Regions from separate parts of the Homo sapiens genome. Here region 1 is linked to region 2. Evidence: fine-mapped expression QTL. Tissue or cell type: whole blood. Region 2 holds a variant in brackets; the other region holds the start of a gene. All regions are shown on one strand. Distances are from middle to middle.

Region 1 (5,000 bases), 23 kb before region 2:
AATACAGGTGATACAGGAAGGCCTGGGAGTGCCCTGGGGGATTGCTGGGATTCAAGTTGGCTGATTTATGAAGGTGTTGAGCCACATTGTGTGGAGTGAGCATGGAGGCCTCCTCACCCACAAGATGTAACAGCTGGAAGGCGGTGAGCCAGGCCTCTGGGATGGCTGCAGCCTGGGTCAGGGTCAATCCCTCTGGGATAGGCATGAGGAGCCCTTCGGGGACAGTGACGTACTGAGCCTGGCCCCCACCGGGGAGCAGAGCCATGGCTGTGTCCCCGATCTTCCAGTGTCCCTGGCAGCCAGGCCCCAGCTCTGCCACATGTCCAGATGCCTCAAGTCCCAAAATGTTGCTGGCTCCTGGAGGTGGGTCATACTGGCCTTGTCTCTGCAGAGAAAGAAGTGCACTAAGTGGTGAGCATGATCAGAAATCTGTATGTCACTACCCCTGGCCCCCCTTCCAAGATCCCCTCTTTTTTTTTTCAAAAATAAATTTCAGAATGAAGTCAGGTTTTTGTAAGTAAGGAGAAGAAAAAGGAGAGGCCATTAGTTTTATGCAAATAAACTGGAGGTCACATGATCAGTGGATGTTATAACTGGTAGAGTCCTTAGCTATTTACCTCATCTGAACCCCTTGCTTTACAGATGGAGAAACTGAGTCCCAGACGGGAAATAATAGTAGTGGGATTAGGAACCTTGACGATGGTTCCCATGCATCAAGCGCTAGGCTCTGTGCTCACTCACCCCAGTCCTCAGAAGCTGTAGAGCAGAGGGACTTAACCAGGAGTGTGTGGCAGAACCACCTGAGGAGTATTTCAAAGTACACGTGCCTGGGCCCCCATCACGTTTCTTTTGTGCCCCGGGGGATTCTGATGCACATTTCTGAATGACCCCAACCAATGCAGCTGGCCCAGGTCAGTAAATCAGCATCAGACAGAAGAAAATTCTTAAGAGTACTGCCCGCTGTCAGCTCCGGGACTCTCAGAGTGGAAAGAGTTAAGAGGTCTTTGGAGCCACAAAGACCTCAGCTTGAATCCCAGCTCTTCTGATTGCTAGTGTCACGGCCTTGGGCGTACTGCTTAACCTCACTGAACTTCAGTTTCCTTATCTGTAGAATTAAGATGGCGAACAGGGTAGCCTGGGGAGTAAGTGTGCCCACACCCCACAACAATGTTAGTTCCGCCCTCATCTGGAGGCCTGAGTGGCTATGGATTAGCTCGGGGTGGATTCTGCTTTACAAGTACTCCCCCTTGTTTTGCATGAACAAAGAGGGCGCCCTGGGTTTAGGTCTGGGAAGCCCCAGCGCAGCTGCCTGCTGGGTGTGGAGCGGTGCACGCCTTCACGTCTGGTCAATGTCCACTGAGTGCTGTTGAGAGGGAGGCTCTGGAGTCCCGCCCGCCCCGGCGCGGCTGAGCCCTGGGTACCTGCATTAAGTCCGCCCGGTTCAGGGCGCTGGCCGCCACCTTCAGGAGGACTTCACCCTCCCCCGGGCTCGGCTTGGCCACCTCCTTCACGTAGAGGTTTTCCGGTCCTCCCGGCTTGTCAAAGTGCACGGCTAACATATTGTCTGAGGACACAGGGCAGGGCAGGGCAGGACAGGACAGGGCAGGGCAGGGCAGGACAGGACAGGGCAGGGCAGGACAGGACAGGGCAGGGGCCGCTGTATCCTCGCGGAGCAGCCCAGCCTCAGGCTGGCACCGCAGCGCCCCCTGCCGGCCAGCGCCTCGCTGCCCTGGTCTGCCGCGGACCCGGCCTCCGCCCCGAGCTCCTGCCTGGGAAGTCCTCGGCCGCCTCCAGACCGATCCCACCCGGAACACAGATGGGAACGGCGGGAAGTGGGATGGCGGTACAGGGCTGGATGCGGCAGAGCAGGACAACGCCGAAGAGGATCAGGCAAATCACACTCCCTCTGAGTTGGAAGCCCCCAGCCCGACCCGGGTCCCCGGCGCCCGTATGAGTTACTTACTCCTGGCCCGGCTCCCCTCCCATGCACCAGGCGGCGCCGAGTGGTTCTGGCTCCTGCGGGTCCCGGTGACAAAGCCCGAGCCCCAGAGCCCCAGGACTGCCTCTGCCTCCACCGGAATGGACGGCTGGACCTGGGGTAGCCGGAGGGGTGGGGCTAAGCAGAACCACCCTCCCCCTCTTTCCTTTCCTCCTTCCCCCTTTAAAACGCAAAGTTAGAAGCAAGCAAATCAGATTTTCTTGTCCTTTTAGCCTCTGGAAAAGAGTCTTTCTCTCAGCTTGACAGAAAGTGCGATTCTAGCTCTCACTTCAAGGAGAGGAAACTTCCTTCTCTCTAGGGAACGAGACCCAACCTCTTGGCGGGCGGATTGGTCCATTTTCCAGGCATGGCCAGGCTTTTGGCACATTTATGTAACAGGCTGGCATCCCGCCCATCTTGAGCATGGGTGGGCAAGCTGGGTGCTGCTAAGAGAAGAGAAAGGAGCCGTTGGGAGTGGGGGTGGGGAAGGAAGGCAAAACGCAGTCCTGGGATCCTTATCACTCGCCTCCTCCTGACAGTCCTGGGGGAGAGGTTCAGCCCCAGGAGAAGGATGCTGGCGATTGGGTAAAAGCTGTATCCGTAAGCTACATGAAGGTTTCTCAATCTCGGCGCTATTGACATTTTGGACTAGCTAGTTCGTTATTGTAGGAGATCGTCCTGTGCATCGTAGGATGTTTAGCAGCATCCCTGGCCTCCCCCCACTACATATCCGTAGCACTCCTTGTAAATTCCTGTTTTAGTAAGAACCTCCCATCCTTGACATCTGATCACCCTCAATATCTCATCCTCCACCATCCCCCAAGTGATATCCGACCACCCTGGCCTGTCTTCAGTGAGAATCCTGTTAGGTCAGTTTAGATAGAATCCCCCTTACCCCTGATGCCTCTTACCAATTTTCCATCCACTGACCCCCTACACTGCTCCTTGGCTATACATTCCCACTTGTCCGTGATGCATTCAGAGTTGATCCCAACCTGTCTCCTCCACTGCAAGAACTCATTGCAGTGGTCCCTAAACCTGTAGCGATGGTGCTAAATAAAGTCTTCCTTAATGTGCTTTAACAAGTATCATTGAATAATTATTTCTTTAACACAACAGAGCAAAAGCCTATAGAGATGGAAATAATAAAATGATGGGACTTAAGGAAAAATTCAGGAGACCCTGCTATGAGAATAACAGGAATTTTAGGCCGGGCGCGGTGGCTCACGCCTGTAATCCCAGAACTTTGGGAGGCCAAGGCGGGCGGATCACGAGGTCAGGAGATCGAGACCATCCTGGCTAACACGGTGAAACCCCGTCTCTACTAAAAATACAAAAAATTAGCCGGGCGTGGTGGCGGGCGCCTGTAGTCCCAGCTATTCGGGAGGCTGAGGCAGGAGAATGGCGTGAACCCGGGAGGGGGAGCTTGCAGTGAGCCGAGATCGCACCACTGCACTCCAGCCTGGACGACAGAGTGAGACTCCGTCTCAAAAAAAAAAAAAAAAAAGGAATTTTAGAAGGAGGAAGAGGAATGGATGAAGAAGATTCAATAGTTAACCAAATAAAAGAATACAGTTTTCCTAAATTCTACCAGATTATACGGATTGAAAACATTCACTAAAGGATGGATTCATAAGAACAAAAATGCATGCCTATATTTTATAAAATTTCAGGTTCTAACAAGTGTGGAAAGAATAAGTTACTCACAATTGGTTAAAAAAAATGGCTTCCTTCTCTCCCTCCCTCCCTCCTTCCTTCCTTCCCTCCTTCCCCACCCCCTCTTTCTCTCTCTCTCTTTTTTGTAGTGTAGGGGTCTCATTATGTTGCCCAGGCTGGTCTCAAACTCCTGGACTCAAGCAATCCTCCTGCCTCAGCCTCCCAAAGTGCTAGGATTACAAGTATGAGCCACTGTGCCCAGCAAGTTTCTATCTGCAATCTGGAAGCTAGAAGAGAGTAGACTAGCGTCTATTGACTAGAAGAAAAGCACTGTAACTCAATATACCCCATTAAGATATAATTCACTTGTTAGGGCAAAAAACATGTCTGAGGATGTATAAGGATTCAGAGACACATCATCCGGATACACATCTGTCCAAAATCGAGGAAAGGTTTGAACCAAATAAATATCCTAGAACAGAGACAGATGGAAAGGAAATAGTTGTAAATAACAAACTTTGCAAAAATCGACACTAAAACTGATTGGATTAAGAAAATGGAATGGATTAAGATAGATGAGGAATGTGTAATGTAAGTGCTAAATAAGAACTTTTAAGATGCAAGGAGTAACTTTAAAAAAAATCTAATAATACCAACCACTAAGTATACTAAAGTATCCCAGTAAAACTAGTAGTTGAAAGTGCCTAAGATTTTATCTTAGTGAGCCCTTGGTCGATGTAATCTTGCAGTGTGTAATAAGAAATATATATTTTTGGTCTTTGTCCTGGGTTCCTACAATAGCACTCCTAAAACCTTTGTTATTTGCTGAATAAACATCTCTTTCTTTCTTTTGTTTTTAACTAGATATACGGTCTTGCTACGTTGCCCAGGCTGATCATGAACTCCTGGACTCAAGCAATTCTCCCACCTCAGCCTGTAAAGTACTGGAATTATAGGCATGAGCCACTCTGCCTGGCCAATAAGTATCTTTTATTATATTTTGTTCTCCTGCAGAGCTCCTAAAACCCTTGGAATTTCGTATGTGATAGAAGTGACTTTTTATATTAATAACAAACCCTTATAAGCACACTCGAGTTTATGCTAATATGACTTAGGGTGGGGGCCCTAGATAGCTTCAGGATGAGCTGGTCACCAGAAAGACCCTGGGAAGGGGAAGCAGGGACTGGAGATTACACGCTATAAGAATTCTTTTTTGTTGTTGTTGTTGAAACTGAGTCTCACTCTGTTGCCCAGGCTGGAGTGCAGTGGCCTGACCTCAGTTCACTGCAACCTCCACCTCCTAGGTTCAAGCGATTCTCCTGCCTCAGCCTCCCGAGTAGCTGGGACTACAGGTGTGAGCCACCAC
Region 2 (8,412 bases):
TAGGCACCCAGCAATGCAGCGGGTGTGTTTAGGAAAGGCTGGCCGGCCAGGAGGTGAGCTGCCAAGAGGCTTCACCAGGCCTGCAGAACTTCAGAGAATCGCTATAGTCCAGGTCAGACTCCCTGCCTGTCGGTATGTGGAGCGCGGGTCTACAGCTCACAGAACTGAGTTCTCAAATCCAGGTATCAGTGTGCTAATTTGTAAGAAGAAATTATTGGCATGGGGGCTGAACCCCAAAATCTACAGGCAAATCTATGTGGAATGTCAAATGGTAAGCCAGGACTCAGGACAAGATGGGACGATTGAGATGAATTGGGGGTGGGGCCGAGATAGTGGACTAGAGGCAGCTCATGTGTGCTGCTGTTTTGGAGAAGAAACAAAAGGACTAGCAAACACTGAGCTGCAGGCCGATCATCTGAAAAACCACGTTGGGACCCATCAGGGCAGTAGAGGAACACAGAGTGCAGAAAGGAGTGAAGCCAGGCACCAGCTGTTTGGGCTCAGCATGGAGCCAGGAGAACCTCTCCAGCACAGGACAGGGTGAGTGAGTGAGAGCCCCCAGGGTGATTCATGCTCTCCACAGGGACCTGTGCAAGACTGGGAATAGGAGAATCCCACTGGGCCCCACACCCACCCATCGTGTTTCTAGACTGAGGCAGAGAGCCACTCAGACGTATTATAGGGCCAACTCTCGAGTCCAAGGGGACCTCTATAAGCCTTGGGCCCTGGGGCAGACCAGCCAGCGCCGAAGCCCCAGCAAAGGCTGCAGTTGCCATGCATGGGAGCAGTAAGGTTGCTCCACCCACCCATGCTGGGTAGGACTCAACACCAGCCTCTAGCCCAGTAGTCTCACTTCAGCCTGAACTCGGCCAGCCACTCCACCCACCCCCACCACTGGTAGCCAGGCGGGCAACACCTGCTAGAGCTTCCAGCCTAATAGCCCTGCTTCTGTGTGAACTCAGCTAGAGGGTGCAGCTTTCTGTTGTCCTGGGAAACACCCGAACAGCAGAGTAAGTGACTCTACCTACCCTGCCACTGGTAGCCAGTTGGGTAACAACTGCTAGAGCTCCTGGCCCAGCAGCTCTGCTTCTGTGTGGATTCAACTGGTGGGTGCAGCCTCCTGTTGTCATAGGAAGCACCCAAATGGCAAGGCACATGACCATACCCACCCTTGCCACTGACAGCCAGGTGGATAACACCTGCTAGAGCTTCTGGCCCAGCAGTCCTGCTTCTGTGTGAACTCAGCCAACAAATGCAGCCTTCTGTTGTCCCAGGAAGCACAGACACCAGAGAAGGCATTCCCACCAACACCAGCCACTGGTAGCCAGGCAAGCCACACCTGCCAGAGCTGGCCCAGTGGCTCTACTTCTACCTGAATTTGTCAAGGGACGCAGCCTCCTGTTGCACTGGAAACACCCAGACAGCAGGGCAGCCAACTGCATCCACCCACCCCCGCGTCCTGTAGCCAGATGGGCCACACCCAGTAGTTTCCAATCCAGTGGTCCTGATTCTGCCTGAACTCTGCAGGCAGGGACAACCTCGTGTTTCCCCAGGAAGCACACAGACAGCAGATTGGAGCTGACCTGGCAAGGTTACAGCTTGTCTGCCACCTGTGGCCCTTGCCTAAGGGAGCTCCATGGACCAGAACACCCCAAAAAAGAAATGCAAATAGGGAGACAGTAATTGGAAGGGGCTCCTCCAAGACCTAGGAGTGGACTAGAATTGAAAGCAGTTAACCAAACCCACCTTGGTTTGGTTTGCCCTGTAGTCAAACCCCCAAGGGCATCAAAGAAGAAAAAAGCAAAAACAAAAAATTTCATCCAAAGGACAGCAACTTCAAAGATTGAAGGAACATCAGCCTACACAAATGAGACAGAACTAGCACAAAAACTCTGGCAAATCAAAAAGCCAGAGTGTCTTCTTTCCTCCAAATGACCACACTAGTTCCCCAGCAAGGGTTCTTAACTGGGCTGGAATGACTGAAATGACAGAAATAGAATTCAGAATATGGATAGGAATGAAGATCATCAAGATTCAGGAGAATTCAAAACCCAATCCAAGGAAGCTAATAATCACAATAAAACAATACAGGAGCTGACAGATGAAATAGCCTCTATAAAAAAGAACCCAACTGATCTGATACAGCTGAAAAACACACTACAAGAATTGCACATTCTAACTGCAAGTATTAACAGCGGAATAGACCAAGCTGAGTAAAGAATCCCAGAGCTTGAAGACTAGCTCTCTGAAATAACCCATTCAGACAAGAATAAAGAAAAAAGAATAAAAAAGAGTGAACAAAACCTCAGAGAAATATGGGATTATGTAATGAGATCAAATCTATGACTCATGGGCATCCCTGAAAGAGACAGGGAGAAAGCAAGCAACTTGGAAAACATATTTTAGGATAATGTTCATGAAAATTTCCTGAAGCTTGTTAGAGAGGCCAACATTCAAATCCAGGAAATGCAGAGAACCCTGAGAGATATTACTCAAGACCATCCCCAAGACACATAATCGTCAGATTCTCCAAAGTTTACATGAAAGAAAAAATGTCAAAGGCAGCTAGAGAGAAAGGGCAGGTTACCTACAAAGGGAACTCCATCAGGCTAACAGCAGATCTTTCAACAGAAACCCTAAAAGCCAGAAGAGACTGGTGGCCTATATTCAGCATTCTTTTTTTTTTTTTTTTTTTTTTGAGACAGAGTTTTGCTCTGTTGCCCAGGCTGAGTGCAGTGGCATGATCTCAGCTCACTGCAACCTCTACCTCCTGGGTTCAAGTGATTCTTCTGTCTCAGCCTCCCAAGTAGCAGGGATTACAGGCACCCGCCACTATGACCAGCTAATTTTTGTATTTTTAGTAGAGACAGGGTTTTGCTGTGTTGGCCAGGCTGGTTTCAAACTCCTGACCTCAGGTGATCTGCCTGCCTCAGCCTCCCAAAGTGCTGGGATTACAGGTATGAGCCACCTTACCTGGCCTCATTTCATTCTTAAAGAAGAAAATTTCCAACTAAGAATTTCATATCTGGCCAAACTAAGCTTCATATGTGAAGGAGAAATAAGATGATTTTCCGACAAGCAAATGCTGAGGGGATTTTTTTTTTTCCACCAGATCTGCCTTATGAGCAGTCCTGAGAGGAGTAGCAAATATGGATGGGAAAGACCATGACTAGCCATTACAAAAACACACTTAAGTAGACAGACTAGTGACACTATAAATCAACCACACTAACAAGTCTGCATAATAACCAGCTAACATGATGACAGGATCAAATCTGCACATATCAATACTAACCTTGAATGTAAATCAGCTAAATACCTCAATCAAAAGGCACAGAGTGGCAAGCTGGATAAAAAAGCAAGACCCAATAGTATGCTGTCTTCAAGAGACCCATCTCACATGTAATGACATCTATAGGCTCAAAATAAAAGGATGGAGAAAAATCTACAAAGCAAACAGAAAACAGAAAAAAAGCAGGGGTTGCAATCATAATTTCAGACAAAATGGACTTTAACCTAACAAAGATAAAAAAAGATAAACAGGGCATTATATAATAGTAAAGGGTACAATTCAACAAGAAGACCTAACTATCCTAAATATATACACACTCAACACAGGAGCACCCAGATTCATAAAACAAGTTCTTAGAGACCTATGAAGAGATTTAGATTCCCACACAATAATAATGGGAGACTTCAACACCCCACTGACAGTATTAGACAGATCATTGAGGCAGAAAATTAACAAAGCTATTCAGGACCTGAACTGAACACTTGACCAAAGTAACCTGATAGACATCTACAGAGTGCTCCACCTAAAAACAACAGAATATACATTCTTCTTATCACCAAATGGCACATACTCCAAAATCAACCAGACAATCAGACATAAAACAATACTCAGCAAAATAAAAAAACCTGAAATCATACCAACCACATTCTCAGACCACAGTGCAATAAAAATAGAAATCAATACTAAGAAAATCATTGAAATCACACAATTACATGGAAATTAAACAACCTGCTCCAAAATGACTTTTGGGTAAATAACGAAATTAGGTCAGAAATAAAAAAATTCTTCCAAACTAATGAGAACAAAGATATGACATACAAGAATCTCTGGGACACAGCTAAGGCAGTGTTAATAGGGAAGTTTATAGCACTAAATGCCCACATGAAACAGACAGATCCCAAATTAACAACCTAATATTACAACTAGAAGACCTAGGAATGCATGAGCAAACCAACCCCAAAGCTATTGGAAGACAAGAAATAACCAAAATCAGAGCTGAACTAAAGGAAATTGAGACACAAAAACCATACAAAAGATCAACAAATCCAGAAATCGGTTCTTTGAAAGAAATTAATCAGATAGATAGATCACTAGCTAGACTAATAAAGAAAAAACGAGAGAAGATCCAAATAAATACAATTAGAAATTACAAAGAGGAGGTTACCACTGGCCCCACAGAAATACAAAACACCTTTAGAGACTACTTTGAATACCTCTATGCACACAAACTAGAAAATCTAGAAGTGGATAAATTCCTGGACACATACAGCTTCCTAAGACTGAACCAGGAATAAACTGAATCCCTGAACAGACCAATAATGAGTTCTGAAATTGAATTAGTAATAAAAAGCCCACCAACCAAAACAAACAAACAAACAAACAAAAAAGGTCCAGGAC[C/G]AGAGGGATTCTCAGCCAAATTCTACCTGATGTATAAAGAAAAGCTGGTACCATTCCAACAGAAACTATTACAAAAAATTGAGGAGGAGGGACTCCTCCCCAACTCATTCTATGAGGCCAGCATCATTCTGATACCAAAACCTGTCAGAGACACAACAACAACAAAAATAAAAAGAAAAGAAAAATTCAGGCTGATATTTTTGATGAACATAGATGCACAAATTCTCAACAAAATGCTAGCAAACTGAATCCAACAGCACATGCAAAGTTGGTTTAACATATGCAAATTGGCCGGGCACAGTGGCTCATGCCTGTAATCCCAGCACTTTGGGAGGCCTAGACGGGCAGATCACGAGGTCATGAGATCGAGACCATCCTAGCTAACACGGTGAAACCCTGTCTCTACTAAAAATACAAAAAATTAGCTGGGTGTGGTGGTGGGTACCTGTAGTCCCAGCCACTTGGAAGGCTGAGGCAGGAGAATGGCATGAACCTGGGAGGCGGAGCTTGCAGTGAGCCGAGATTGCGCCACTGCATTCCAGCCTGGCTGACAGAGCAAGAGTCCGTCTCAAAAAAAAAAAAAAAAGAAAAAGCTATTTTGAAATTCATATGGAACCAAAAAAGAGCTCGAATAGCTAAGGCAACCCTAAGCAAAGCTGAAGGCATCACCTTACCCAACTTCAAACTATATACTACAGGGCTACAGTAACCAAAACAGCATGGTACTGGTACAAAAACAGACATATAGACCAATGGAACAGTAGAGAGAGCCCAGAAATAATGCCATACACCTATAACCATCTGATCTTCAACAAAGTTGACAAAAAAAAAGAGTAATGGCAAAAAAAAAAAAAAAAAGCAATGGAAAGTACTCCTTATTCAATAAATGGTGCTAGAATAAATGGCTAGCCACATGCAGAAGATTGAAATTTGACCCCTTCCTTACACCATATACAAAATCAACTCAAGATGGATTAAAGACTTATGTGTAAAAACTCAAACTATAAAAACACTGGAAGATAACCTAGGACATGCCATTCTGGACATAGGACTTGGTGAAGATTTCATAATGAAGACACCAAAAGCAATTGCAACGAAACAAAAATTGACAAATGGCATGTAATTAAATTAAAGAGCTTCTGCACAGCAAAAGAAACTATCAACAGAGTAAACAGACAACCTACTGAGAGAAAATATTTGCAAACTATACATCTGACAAAGGTCTAATATCCAGAATCTATAAGGAACTTAAACAAATTTACAAGCAAAAACAACCCCATCAAAAAGTGGGCAAAGAACATGAACAGACACTTTTCAAAAGAAGACATATATGCAGCCAAAAAGCATATGAAAAATGCTCAACATCACTAACCATTAGAGAAATGCAAATGAAAACTACAAGATACCATCTCACACCATTCAGAATGGCTATTATTAAAAAGTCAAAAAATAATAGATGTTGGCGAGGTTGTGGAGAAAAGAGAATGCTTATACAGTGCTGATGGGAGTGTAAATTAGTTCAGCCATTGTAGAAATAAGTGTGGCAACTCCTCAGTGAACTTAAAACAGAATTACCATTTGACCCAGCAATCCCATTACTGGGTATATACCCAAAAGAATATAAATCATTCTACCATAAAGATACATCCATGCATATGTCCACTGCAGCCTATTCACAATAGTAAAGACACATAATCAACCTAAATGCCTATCAATGGTAGACAGGATAAAGAAAATGTGGTATATATACATCATGGAATATTATGCAGCCATAAAAAGAATGAGATCATGTCCTTTGCAGCAACATGGATAGAGGTGGAGGCATTATCCTTAGCAAACTAAGACAGGGACAGAAAACCAAATACCACCTGTTCTCACTTGTAAGTGGGAGCTAAACAAGGAGAACACGTGGATACTAGGAGGGAAACAACAGACACTGGGGCCTGCTTGAGAGTGGAGGGTGGGAGGAGGGAGGGGATCAGAAAAAACACCTATCAGTCACCCATTTCTGGGATGGGGGATAGGTACTAGATAGCTTCAGGGCAGGGGCTGGTCACCAGAAGAACCAACCCTGTGATTAGAGGGCTGGAACTTTTAGCTTCATCTCCTGACTTCTGGGGAGGAAAAGTGAGTGGGGATTGAGTTCAATCATATAGCCGATGATTCAGTCAATTATGCCTACATAACAGAAGCCCATATAAAAACCCTGGAACAACAAGGTTTGGAGAGAGAGCTTCTGGGCTGGCGAACACCTCCATGTGCTGGGAGGCGCATGTGTCTGGAGAGGTGTGGAAGTTCTGTGCCCCCGCCCTATACATCTCCATTTGGCTATTCCTGACTTGCATCCTTTATAAGAAAACTGCAATCGTAAGTGCAGTGTAGCCTTTTCATGAGTTCTGTAGTCATTCCAGCAAATTATCATGAGTCATGGGACTCCCCCCCCAAATCTGTAGCCAGGTCAGACAGAAGTGTGGGTAGTGCGGGTAGCCTGGGGACCTGGAACTCGTGTTTGGCATCTGTAGTGGGGACAGGCTTGTGGGAACTGAGCTCCTTAACCTGTGAGGTCTACACTAACTCCAGTTAGCTAGTGTCAAATTGAATCGTAGGACACTTGGTCAAAGAATTATTGTTGGAAACTACCAGGGTACTTAAATTGTTTGCTCATAAACCCTCCCACTTTGAATGGGCCCAACCAACATTTACTCCAGTGACTCTTATCTGAGCTTCCTGGCTGATCTTTTTTTTTTTGAAACAGAGTCTCGCCGTGTCACCTAGGCTAGAATATAGTGGCATGATCATAGCTCAGTGTAACCTGAAACTCTTGGGCTCAAGCAACCCTTCTGCCTCAGCCTCCTGAGTAGTTGGGACTACAGGGGTGTGCCACCATGCCCAGCTATTTTTGCATTTTTTGTAGAGACAAGATCTTGCTATGTTGCCCAGGCTGATTTCGAACTCCTGGGCTCAGGCAATCCACCTGCTTTAGCCTCCCGAGTGCTGGGATTATAGGCATGAGCCACCGCACCTGGCCCCACTTCCATTTTTTTTGTGGTTACACATTCCTTCTACACACATATCAATATGTTCACATGTTCAAGTCTTGCAGGCTTGAGAGCCATTCTTTGCATATCTCTGCTCCTGTCCATTCTGTTTTGATGACACAGCCTAATTTTAGCCTGAAGTATTGATAGCTCAGTCTTTGTTTAGCTTTGGGCCTTGGCATCCCTGTCCTCTTTTGGAGTTGTGGCTAGAAGTCCTCAAATGCTTCCTGGCTTGTCGTGCAAACCTCACAAGTATCTTTATATTGTACATCTCTGGACTGCAGAGGTGTGACTGTCCAACATCACCATGATTTAGCACTAACTGGAATTTAAAGAGTAACCTGCTTCTCCAGTCTCTGACTCAGCTAGTTCAAATGTCTGCAGTATTTCCTCTCATCCTCACCCACTGGGACACTAAGACTGCTTCGGACTCACCCCACAAGCAGAGGGGGCTGATAAATTAGAGCTGAATTACATACAACTCCCATCTGCCAAAAAAAACCCCTCAACTGCATGTTACAAGCTATGGTGTAAAATTCCTTCCTTGTAAGAGACAAAACAAAAACTCCAGAGAGCCATAAACTTGCTCAAATTCTGACCCTGAAATTCCACTTCCAGACCTAAGGAAATAATCAGAGATACAAAGAATTATGTAAAAGTTCTAAACTGTAATATTACTTACAA

What was found. PIP is the estimated chance that this variant, and not a neighbour inherited with it, causes the effect.
Region 1: it holds the start of TP53I3, and the variant in region 2 is fine-mapped to the expression of TP53I3 in whole blood (TOPMed, PIP above 0.99).

What each region holds. Positions count from the first base shown.
Region 1 is chr2:24,082,768-24,087,767 of GRCh38, forward strand. It overlaps TP53I3 (tumor protein p53 inducible protein 3), which reads right to left and starts at 2,067. Exons shown (of 5, transcript NM_004881.5): 1 at 1,422-2,067; 2 at 118-385. The coding sequence starts at 1,559. It also overlaps a transcript of FAM228B not described here. RefSeq lists enhancers at 1-709, 1,305-1,404, 1,555-1,604, 2,352-2,852 and a silencer at 1,615-1,794.
Region 2 is chr2:24,103,641-24,112,052 of GRCh38, forward strand. It overlaps a transcript of FAM228B not described here. Among named protein-coding and RNA genes, the nearest start is that of PFN4, 15 kb to the right of the region's middle. RefSeq lists an enhancer at 1,269-1,328. The variant C/G (reference allele first, on the strand shown) is at 4,691.